2 separate regions of the Homo sapiens genome follow, and region 1 is linked to region 2. The links come from fine-mapping of genetic effects on gene expression. Tissue or cell type: whole blood. Region 2 holds a variant in brackets; the other region holds the start of a gene. All regions are shown on one strand. Distances are from middle to middle.

Region 1 (5,121 bases), 410 kb after region 2:
AGACCGAGACCGCTCGTGGGGAGGGAATCTATGTGTTTACACTTTTTTTTTTTTTTTTTTTTTTTTTTGCCCCGGAGCTGCTGCGGGAATTGATTGGCTCCCTTGCGCCCCTGACGCTGGGACTGTCCCCCCGCCGCGCCCCGCCCGCACCCCGCCCGCACCCCGCCCCCTCGCGCGGCCATCTGCTTCGCAGTCTGTCTCCCAGTCTCTCACTCGGCCCCTCTCCCCTCCACCACTCCCAGCCCCCGTCTCCCCCACCGTCACCCCCCAGCGCCGGCTCCGCCTCTTCCCCCTCCCCGGCCCAGTGCTCCGAATCTTCCCCGGCCGTTGCCAGGGAGACCAGCCGATACCAGGCAAATAGGCGTACCAGAAAGAAAAGGGGGGAAAGCTACACGGCAGCCTGGTAACAAAGGAGCAATAAAAGCAGCCCCCAAATGGAGGGCTAAGGACGCGTCTGGGAGAAAATCTGAAAGCGAGCTAGCAGTCACCCCAATTTAAAATAGGAGGGGGATGCGGAGGAAGGGGCATGATTCACGTTGGGGGTGGGGGGAAATCAAGAGCCTTAAATGGGCTTTTGGGAATCGCCTGGATGGTGGTGTCGGATCAGCCCAGTTGGCTTTTCAAGTTGGAACTGCTAATACAAGGGATTTGCGTCCATCCTGGCGGCTGGGGTCGTGGGCCAGGCCAGCGGGCTCTCTTAAGGGTAATAACACGTTTGCTGGCAAGATGCATTTCTACGGAAACGTCTTTACATCAGCTCTGGGGAATATGACCATGGTCGAATAATGCATCTGAAGGAACTGGACAGTGAGAAGACGAAGCTTCACGTAACAATGTTCAGCTTGGTGATTTTTAAAGCAACGCTTGAACAAAGAGTTACTGGCTTGAACCAACCGTCTTTTTCACTCAGAGTGTGACCTATTTCCCTACAATGAGCAGAAAATAAAACTGTTTGAGAATTCAGAGCCAGCACCAGGAGAAATGAACCATTCCCTCGACTGCTTCTCACCTTCATAAGCGAAAGATTATTCCTTGCAAGATCACCAAATGTAAACGAGAAAAGGTGGTCTGATTTTGCCACGAGTGAAAACTTTGGGAAGAAAATGCTTATTAAGCTGTTTCCTTGGTTCCCCTCACCCCTCATACTTTAAGTCAGTGCCTTGTCTCTCACGCACAAAAAGCGTCTGGTACTTCGGTGGCAAGGAGTGCAGTGACAGATGGAGGTATCCTGTGTACCATTATAGAAGGTTTTCCTCTAACCCAAGTTAGACTTGGAGAGCTCAGGGATCTTGCTATCTCTCAACATACAGAACATTTCTCCTTAGAACTGCAATCCGGTTTAGAATGTCATCGTTGCTGCTGCCTCCCTTCCTTTCAGGAGCACATTCGCCTGCGTGCGCACTCACACACACGTTCAAAAAGAGTCCATTCGATTCTGGCAGTAGGCTGAAAACGATCCATATTGACGCGAATAACATCCCAACTGTAAATATGGATTCGTCTACTCGAGGCTGTGTCTCATTTCACCATAGAGGAAAATTATGTCATTTAAAACAGTGATAAAACGCGAAGAGTTTCGATCTTCTGTAAATGGCTCTCACTTTGAATTGTGGGGGAAAAAAATCACTAATTGGGAATAGCCAGAGAAGGGGGAATTTGTTGAGCGCCCAAGGCCAATCTCAAAATATTTTATTTCATGCCAATGTGGGAGAGGGAAGGGAGTGTGGCTTCGCTGTTTGCCGCTTTTGCATTTTCCACATCTGGCCTACAGACCTAATTCTAACTTGCGATCTCGCTTGATGAAATTCGATCTTCGTGGTTTAAATACCTTTCAATTTGGGACGATTTAACCATTGCAGCAGTTCAAAAAACAAACCCTGAGCATTATCTGTAAAACCAATATGGAAAAAAGAAAGAAAACATGCTGCAAACACACAAATCGCAACCATTGTCTTTAACACTCGCATACACACACATACACATAAACACACGGAAAGATGGGGGAGGGGAGCGAGTGGAGAGAGAGAGACACACGGATATAGACCGACGAGAGTCAATGCGAGTCAAGTTAACGCTTTCTCCGCCCCGATGCACAAGTACCCCCCTCCCGTGTTAATTAATTCCAAACAAAGCAAGCCAATCAAGAAATGCATTATTATTTTCAAGCAGAGAGAGACGAGTGCCATGTATTTTTTAATTGATTTATTTATTTGGAGGACATTAATTCTCGGTCTGAGGCTGATTTTCAAACCGTTTGCAAAGCGCGGCTCCATTGTTCGCCAGGCGCGCAGACCCCGCCCCCTGCTTTGTGTGCGGCGCGCGGATTGGCCGACGCGCGCGGGGGCCGCGTCAGCGCCCGCGAGCCCATTCATCTGTGCACTTGGGCGTTGGACCCCGCATCTTATTAGCAACCAGGGAGATTTCTCCATTTTCCTCTTGTCTACAGTGCGGCTACAAATCTGGGATTTTTTTATTACTTCTTTTTTTTTCGAACTACACTTGGGCTCCTTTTTTTGTGCTCGACTTTTCCACCCTTTTTCCCTCCCTCCTGTGCTGCTGCTTTTTGATCTCTTCGACTAAAATTTTTTTATCCGGAGTGTATTTAATCGGTTCTGTTCTGTCCTCTCCACCACCCCCACCCCCCTCCCTCCGGTGTGTGTGCCGCTGCCGCTGTTGCCGCCGCCGCTGCTGCTGCTGCTCGCCCCGTCGTTACACCAACCCGAGGCTCTTTGTTTCCCCTCTTGGATCTGTTGAGTTTCTTTGTTGAAGAAGCCAGCATGGGTGCCCAGTTCTCCAAGACCGCAGCGAAGGGAGAAGCCGCCGCGGAGAGGCCTGGGGAGGCGGCTGTGGCCTCGTCGCCTTCCAAAGCGAACGGACAGGTAAATTCTACCTGTGGTTGTGGTCATTTATTTCGTGTCTTTCTCTCCTTCCCTCCTGGTGGCTCCCAAGGCTCATTCGTGGAGAGGAGTGTGGCTGGATTCTAGTCTGAAAGTTGAATGGAAATGGATAGCCTAAATTGTGGATTTTTCATAGCCGGGGTCCCCCCACACCAAAGGAGTGGTTCCTTAGAATCCTGGAGAATTCTTGAGTAGACGGGAGGAAAGGAGTGATAAATCGTCTAAAATGGCGTGGTTTGGAGATTGGCAGAACGTGACTAGCTAGGTGCCCTCCTTCCCCCGCCCCCAGCCAGGTTTCATTTGTGTTTGGGGGCACAATGGTGTTTGGGTGTCTCTCGGGTTTGTTGTCGAAGCTGGATTGTCTTCGAGATTTCTGAACTGGTGGTGTGATTGTGTGTGGCGGGGGGGGGAGTCGGGAAAGGGGGGCGCAATGGGGATGGTGGTGGAGAAAGGCGAGGAGGGAAAGGCTGTCTTATTGTATGCCGCGGCGGCGTGCCCTGGGTTCTTGGAAAGGTGGCTGGCTGGGGCCAGACAGAGGGCTTCGGTACCTTTTGATGAGGCTTTCCCACTGTCCTAAATCTTTATTCGTAGCTGTCTGTGGAATTACACATCCATTTGATTTTTAAATGGTATCTGTGGGGTGGGAACACTCGGTGGGTCCTTTAAGAACCTTTCCAGATGGTCAAAAAGAGGCGGTTCGTGCCTTTCGGTCGGGATTGTTCTTGTGCGTGGCGCCTCGACCACCCGCGAGGGGCCGCCCGGCGCTGCCCGGACCCAGGCAGATAGCCACGATTGGGTGGACCCGAGAGGTCGGCCATGGGTGGCTGCTTCGCAAACACTGGGCACCCACCACGCCTCTTTTCCTAGAGAAGAGATCGTGTCGCTTCGCCTGCTCTAACCTACTGGGGAAAGCGAGGTCTGCCAAGAGGCTTTAAACCCGTTAAAAATGCAAAATGAGCCGCCGAGGCGCGCCCAGGCTTCGCAGAATCGCAGGGGAAGGTGGGCGTGGAAGCAGAGGCGAGACCTCAGAAATAATGGGTTTCCCCCTGCCTTGTTGGTTTCAGCCCGACCGGCAGGCCAGGAAACCACCTGAGCTTTGTTTGCGGACTGTTGGGCTGCGCGATCCGGGCTCGGGGGCGCCTCGGCCTGCGGGCAGGGCCCGGCTGGGCAGGGCGGGGTGGCCCGGCGACTCCGCCCCTCCTCGCCTGCCTGCGCCCAACGCGGCGCGGTGGAGGCACAGCGCCCCCTGCCGGTGCCAAAGGCCTGGGTGGGCGCAGGAGCTCGGAGGGCCCCGCGCGGGCGCTCCTGGCTCGAGTGCTGTGATCCCCCTGGGAATTCCTGGTATTTTGAAGAGGCCTTTATGTATTTAGGGCGAAAGAGGGATGTGAAACGTAGGCGCGAACCACCAGCTCTGGCTCTGTGCCTTCTTCCAAAGGGCGTTTGCTGTGTCAACTAGTCCCTGGCACCTTTTTTCCCCCAAGCCCCCGATAAAGCGAGGGCTGGCATGGTTAGCCTTTGCTTGCTACGTTTCGGACTTCGTCTTTAGGGCACTTGCTGAATGGCTGGGAGGCCATTGCCGTACTTGGGGGCTACAGTTGTGTTTTCGGGGGGTCTCCAGGCAGCGGTGCCCATTTCCTCGTTCGTGGGGCTCTCTTCTGGGCATCCACCCGCGCCTCCCTCCCCACAACGGCGGGGGTGGGGTCTCGATGGCCACAGGGGCCTTAGGGGGAAGCGGGGCACTCCCGGTCCAGGGCTGGGGGCGGGAATGGCGGCGCCCCGGCCGCTTCAGTGACGCTCCCGCTTTCTCTGCCCCTTAGGAGAATGGCCACGTGAAGGTAAACGGCGACGCTTCGCCCGCGGCCGCCGAGTCGGGCGCCAAGGAGGAGCTGCAGGCCAACGGCAGCGCCCCGGCCGCCGACAAGGAGGAGCCCGCGGCCGCCGGGAGCGGGGCGGCGTCGCCCTCCGCGGCCGAGAAAGGTGAGCCGGCCGCCGCCGCTGCCCCCGAGGCCGGGGCCAGCCCGGTAGAGAAGGAGGCCCCCGCGGAAGGCGAGGCTGCCGAGCCCGGCTCGCCCACGGCCGCGGAGGGAGAGGCCGCGTCGGCCGCCTCCTCGACTTCTTCGCCCAAGGCCGAGGACGGGGCCACGCCCTCGCCCAGCAACGAGACCCCGAAAAAAAAAAAGAAGCGCTTTTCCTTCAAGAAGTCTTTCAAGCTGAGCGGCTTCTC
Region 2 (5,288 bases):
ATGAGAAGGTCCACAAATTCTATCCCCCAGAAAGCAAATAAAAAGCTGAACAAAAGAATAAAAATAATCACAAAAAAATTGTACACAAATATTTCTCATGAACACAGATACAAAAAATCTTTAACAAAACATGAGCAAACTGAATCTAGAAACACATAATTGATTTTCAATATTAAACTCAACTTACATTCCTAGGATGCATTTGGTCATAATATACAATTCAACTAATGTAATATACCATATCAGTAGAAAAAAGGACAAACATCACTTTATTATCTCAATAGATGCAGAAAAGAATATTTGGAAAAAAAAACCTTAAAACTATTACCTTCGTGTGTTATAAAATGAATATTTGTATCTCTCCAAATTTCATATATTGAACCCTAATCCCTAACATGAAGGATTTGAATGTGGAGTCTTTAGGGGGTGATTAGATTGTAAAGGGGGAGCCCTTATAAATGGAATTATAGTAGTTCCCTATTTTCTATGGTTTAGCTTTCCACGGTTTCAGTTACCAGCAGTACAACACAATCAGATATTTTTTGAGAGAGACATATTCACCTTATTTTTATTAAATTATATTGTTATTTTATTATTAGTTATTATTAGTTATTGTTAATCTCTTATTGTGCCTAATTTATATATGAAACTTTATTGTAGGTATGTAGGGGGTTAGGAAAATATATCATATATATGGGGTTCAGTACTATCTATGGTTTTAGGCATCTACTAGGGGTCTTGGAACATATTCCCTGTAGATAAGGAGGGACTACTGCAGTGCCCTTCTAAAAGAGACCTCAGAGACTCCCTTGGCCCTCCCACCATGTGAGATTACAGTGAAAAGGCCACCGTCTCTGAATCAGAAAGCAGGCCCTCACCAGATATGAAATCTCTGGCACCTTGATCTTTGATTTCATAGCTCCCAGAACTGTCAGAAAAACATTTCTGTTGTTGATAAGCAACTCAATCAATAGTATTTTGTTATACCAGCCCAAATGAATTAAGGTATCTCATATAATATGCAAAAACTAACTCAAAACTTATCACAAACCTAAATGGAACAGGTAAACTAGAAAGTTTCCAGTAGAAAATATAGAAGAAAATCTTCATGCCTTTGCATTACTGATAGAGTTCTTAGTCACCAAAATCACAATCCATAGAAGAAAAAAACTAACAAATTGGACTTCATCAAAATTTAAAACTTTTATACCTCCTCAAAATTAAAGACACTTGCACTTTATTTTTGAAAATAAAAAAGGAAAGCCAAAAAGTAGAAGAAAATATTTGCAAATCATATATTTGATAAAGGACTTATACCAGGCAACATAGCAAGACCTCATCTCTAATTAAAAAATAAATAAGGCTGACATGGTGGCACACATCTGTAATCCTAGTACTATGGGAGGCCAAGGCGGTTGGATCACTTGGGTCAGGGGTTCGAGACCAGCCTGGCCAATATGGTGAAACCCCATCTCTACTAAAATTACAAAAATTAGCCAGGTGTGGTGGCACATGTCTGTAATCCCAGCTACTCAGGAGTCTGAGACATGAGAATCACTTGAACCTGGGAGGCAGACGTTGGCTTGAGCCAAGACCATGCCATTGCACTCCAGCCTGGGTGACAGAGTGAGACAGTCTCAAAGAAAAAACAAAAAAAGTTTCTACCACTCCGTAGGTTTCCTGTTCACTCTGACAACAGTTTCTTTTGCTGTACAGAAAGCTCTTTAGTTTAATTAGATCCCATTTGTCAATTTTTACTTTTGTTGCAATCGCTTTCGGTGATTTCATCATGAAATCCTTGCCCATGATTATGCCTTGAGTGGTATTGCCTAGATTTTTTTCTAGGGCTTTTTGTTGTTGTTGTTGTTGTTGTTGTTGTTGTTGTTGTTTTCCTTTTTTTGAGACAGGGTCTCACCCTGTTGGCTGACTGGAGTGCAGTGGTGAGATCTTGGCTCACCCCAATCTCTGCTCCCCCAGCTCAAGCAATTCTCCTGTCTCAGCCTCCCAAGTAGCTGGGATTACAAGCGTGCACCACCACGCCCAGCTAATTTTTGTATTTTTAGTAGAGACAGGGTTTTGCCATGTTGGCCAGGGTGGTCTCAAACTCCTGACCTCAGCTGATCGGCCCACCTTGGCCTCCCAAAGTGCTGGCATTACAGGTGAGAGCAACCGCGCCCAGCCTTCTTCTAGGGTTTTTATAGTTTTGGGTTTTGTATTTAAGTCTTTAATCCATCTTGAGTTAATTTTTATATAAGGTGTAAGGAAGGGGTTGAAAATCAGATGGTTGTAGATGTGCAGTCTTATTTCTGAGTTCTCTATTCTGTTTTATTGGTCTATATGTCTGTTTTTGTGCCAGTACCATGCTGTTTCGGTTATTGTAGCCTTGTTGTAGTTTGAAGTCTGGCAGTGTTATGCCTTCAGCTTCTTACTTTTTGCTTAGGATTGTCTTGGCTATAAGAGTTCTTTTTTGGTACCATATGAATTTTAAAATAGTTTCTTCTAAATCTGTGAAGAATGTCAATGGT[C/T]GTTTAATGGGAATAGCATTGAATTTATAAATTACTTTCGGCAGTATGGCTATTTTCACGATATTAATTCTTCTTATCCATGAGCATGGAATGTTCATCTGACAAAGGTCCAATATCCAGAATCTACAAGGAACTTAAAGAAATTTACAAAAAAAAAAAGCCATTAAAAAGTGGGCAAAGGACATAAACAGATATTGCTCAAAAGAAGACATTCATGCAGCCAAGAAACATGAAAAAATGCTCAACATCGCTAATTAGAGAAATGCATATCAAAACCACAATGAGATACCATCTCATGCCAGTCAAAAAGTCAATTATAAAAAAGTCAAAAAATAACAGATGCTGGCGAGGTTGCGGGGAAATAGGAATGCTTTTACACTGTTGGTATGAATATAAATTAGTTCAACCATTGTGGAAGATGATGTGGCAATTCCTCAAAGATCTAGAACCAGAAATACTATTTGATCCACATCCCATTACTGAGCATATACCTAAAGGAGTATAAATCATTCTATTACAAAGATACATGCACGTGTTTGCTCAGTGCAGCACTATTCACAATAGCAAAGAAATGGAATCAACCCAAATGCCTATCAACTGTAGACTGGATAAAGAAAATGTGGTACAGGCTGGGTGCAGTGGCTCATACCTGTAATCCCAACACTTTGAGAGGCCAAGATGGGTAGATCACCTGAGGTCAGGAGTTCAAGGCCAGCCTGGCCAACATGGTGAAACCCCGTCTCTACTAAAAATACAAAAATTAGCCAGGTGCAGTAGCACATGCCTGTAATCCCAGCTACTCAGGGGGCTGAGGTAGGAGAATCACTTGAACCTGGGAGGTGGAGGTTGCAGTGAGCCAAGATCATGCCATTGCACTCCAGCCTGGATGACAGAGTAAGACTCCATCTCAAAAAAAAAAAAAAAGAAAAAGAAAAAAAAGAAAAGAAAAGAAAAGAAAAGAAAAAAAGAAAATGTGGTACATATACACCATGGAATACTATGCAGCCATAAAAAGGATCGAGATCATGTCCTTTCCAGGGACATGGATGGAGCTGGAAGCTGTTATCCTCAGCAAATTAATGCAGGAACAAAAAACTAAACACCACATGTTCTCACATATAAGCTGGAGCAGAACAATGAGAACACATGGACACAGGGAGGGGGACAACACACATTGGGGCCTGTTGGGGGGTAGGGTCAGGGGAGGGAAAGTATCAGGAAATAGCTAATGCATGCTGGGCTTAATACCTAGATGATGTCTTGACAGGTACAGCAAAACGCCATTACACACATCTACCTATGTAATGAACCTGCATATCCTGAACATGTACCCTGGAACTTAAAATACAAATTAAAATTAATTATAAAATAAATAAAACTTTAAAAATTTAAATGCACACTTACTATATGACATAGCAATACCTAGGAATATGTGTAAGAAAAATAAAAACCTGTCACAGAGACATGTAGGTAAATATTCACAGCAGCATTATTCATAATAGCCAAAAACTGGAAATAATTCAAATGTCCATCAATTGGGAAATGGACTTTTTTAAGTGCCATATCCATACAATGGAAGGTTATTCAGCAATAAAAATGATAGCACTACCATACATGCTACAGTGTAAATTAACCTCAAAGAAGAAGTCAGGTGCAAAAAGCATAATTACTCTGTAATTCATTTATATAAAATGTTCAGAAAAAGCAAATTTATAAAAAGAAGAGAAATCAGTATTAGCCTAGAGGTGAATGTGGAAGCAGTGATTAACTATAAATGAGTACAAGAAAACTTTAGAGGTAATGGAGATGTCCTAAAACTGGAATGTGATGATGATAGCTCTGCTGTATAAATTTATTACAAATTATTGAATTGTATACTTATAATAGGTAGACTTTAAGATACATAAATTATACTTCCATAAAGCTGTTAATAACAAAAAACTACATTACATTGGAAGGTATCTGGACATAAACTACTTGATAAGCAAGAAGTCTACTGATTTTAAAGACATCCCCAGAATTTTAAAATTCTGGCCGAATTTTTGGTTTCTCTTTATGTAGTCCCAATCAAGGTAATGGAGAGTTAACTTAGTTTCCCCTATTATGAACCCATCTTAAATGTGGAAGGGAAGAAAAAGAGTGAGTCAGCTCTCACATGACCCAAACTTGTTGCTTCGTCTCTAAAAGTGAGTCATGAAGGCAACTTTTTCCTTGCCTATGAACGTGTTTGAGGAAAAACTATGTGCTTGGTTTAGCATCATTGACCACAATAATTATAGTGCATGAGAATTTATGTTGTATATAAGACTGCTAGATTGGTGGTGGGGGTTTAAGGGACTCAATGCCTGAGGTCTAAGTCTTTAATCCACAAAAAAAAATGCACTTTTTTTTAATGGTCTAAACTAACAATTATGGGTTGTAGAAGTGTTTGTGCTTGTTCAGATGTTCCATGACCAAGAATTTGAAGATGTACATTTTCCAAGTAAATCCAGTACTGAGGAAGAGTGTTAAATTGTCATATTGGAGAGCTGTTTCTATTTTAATGAGTCACATCTCTAGTAAAGACAGGTCTTTCTTGTAAGACAGACCAAGTCTGCTCAGAAGTTAAGAAAGAAGGTATGGTTCACGTTCTTGGAGGGGGAAAAATGTTTTCACTTATGATTTGAACTCCATCACTAAATTATTACTGATGGTCACAGAGCAACTGTTAGACTACATATTGGTCACCAATTTGATTTCACACTAACGGTAATAGCACAAAAG

Evidence for each region. PIP is the estimated chance that this variant, and not a neighbour inherited with it, causes the effect.
Region 1: MARCKS starts here. The variant in region 2 is fine-mapped to the expression of MARCKS in whole blood (INTERVAL, PIP 0.95).

Annotation. Positions count from the first base shown.
Region 1 is chr6:113,854,969-113,860,089 of GRCh38, forward strand. MARCKS (myristoylated alanine rich protein kinase C substrate) reads left to right here and starts at 2,377. Exons shown (of 2, transcript NM_002356.7): 1 at 2,377-2,879; 2 at 4,715-5,121. The coding sequence starts at 2,778. RefSeq lists silencers at 132-341, 3,924-4,253 and enhancers at 1,132-1,191, 1,212-1,261, 1,532-2,077, 2,078-2,621, 2,409-2,458 and 1 more.
Region 2 is chr6:113,442,554-113,447,841 of GRCh38, forward strand. No RefSeq gene overlaps it. Among named protein-coding and RNA genes, the nearest start is that of LINC02518, 12 kb to the left of the region's middle. The variant C/T (reference allele first, on the strand shown) is at 2,526.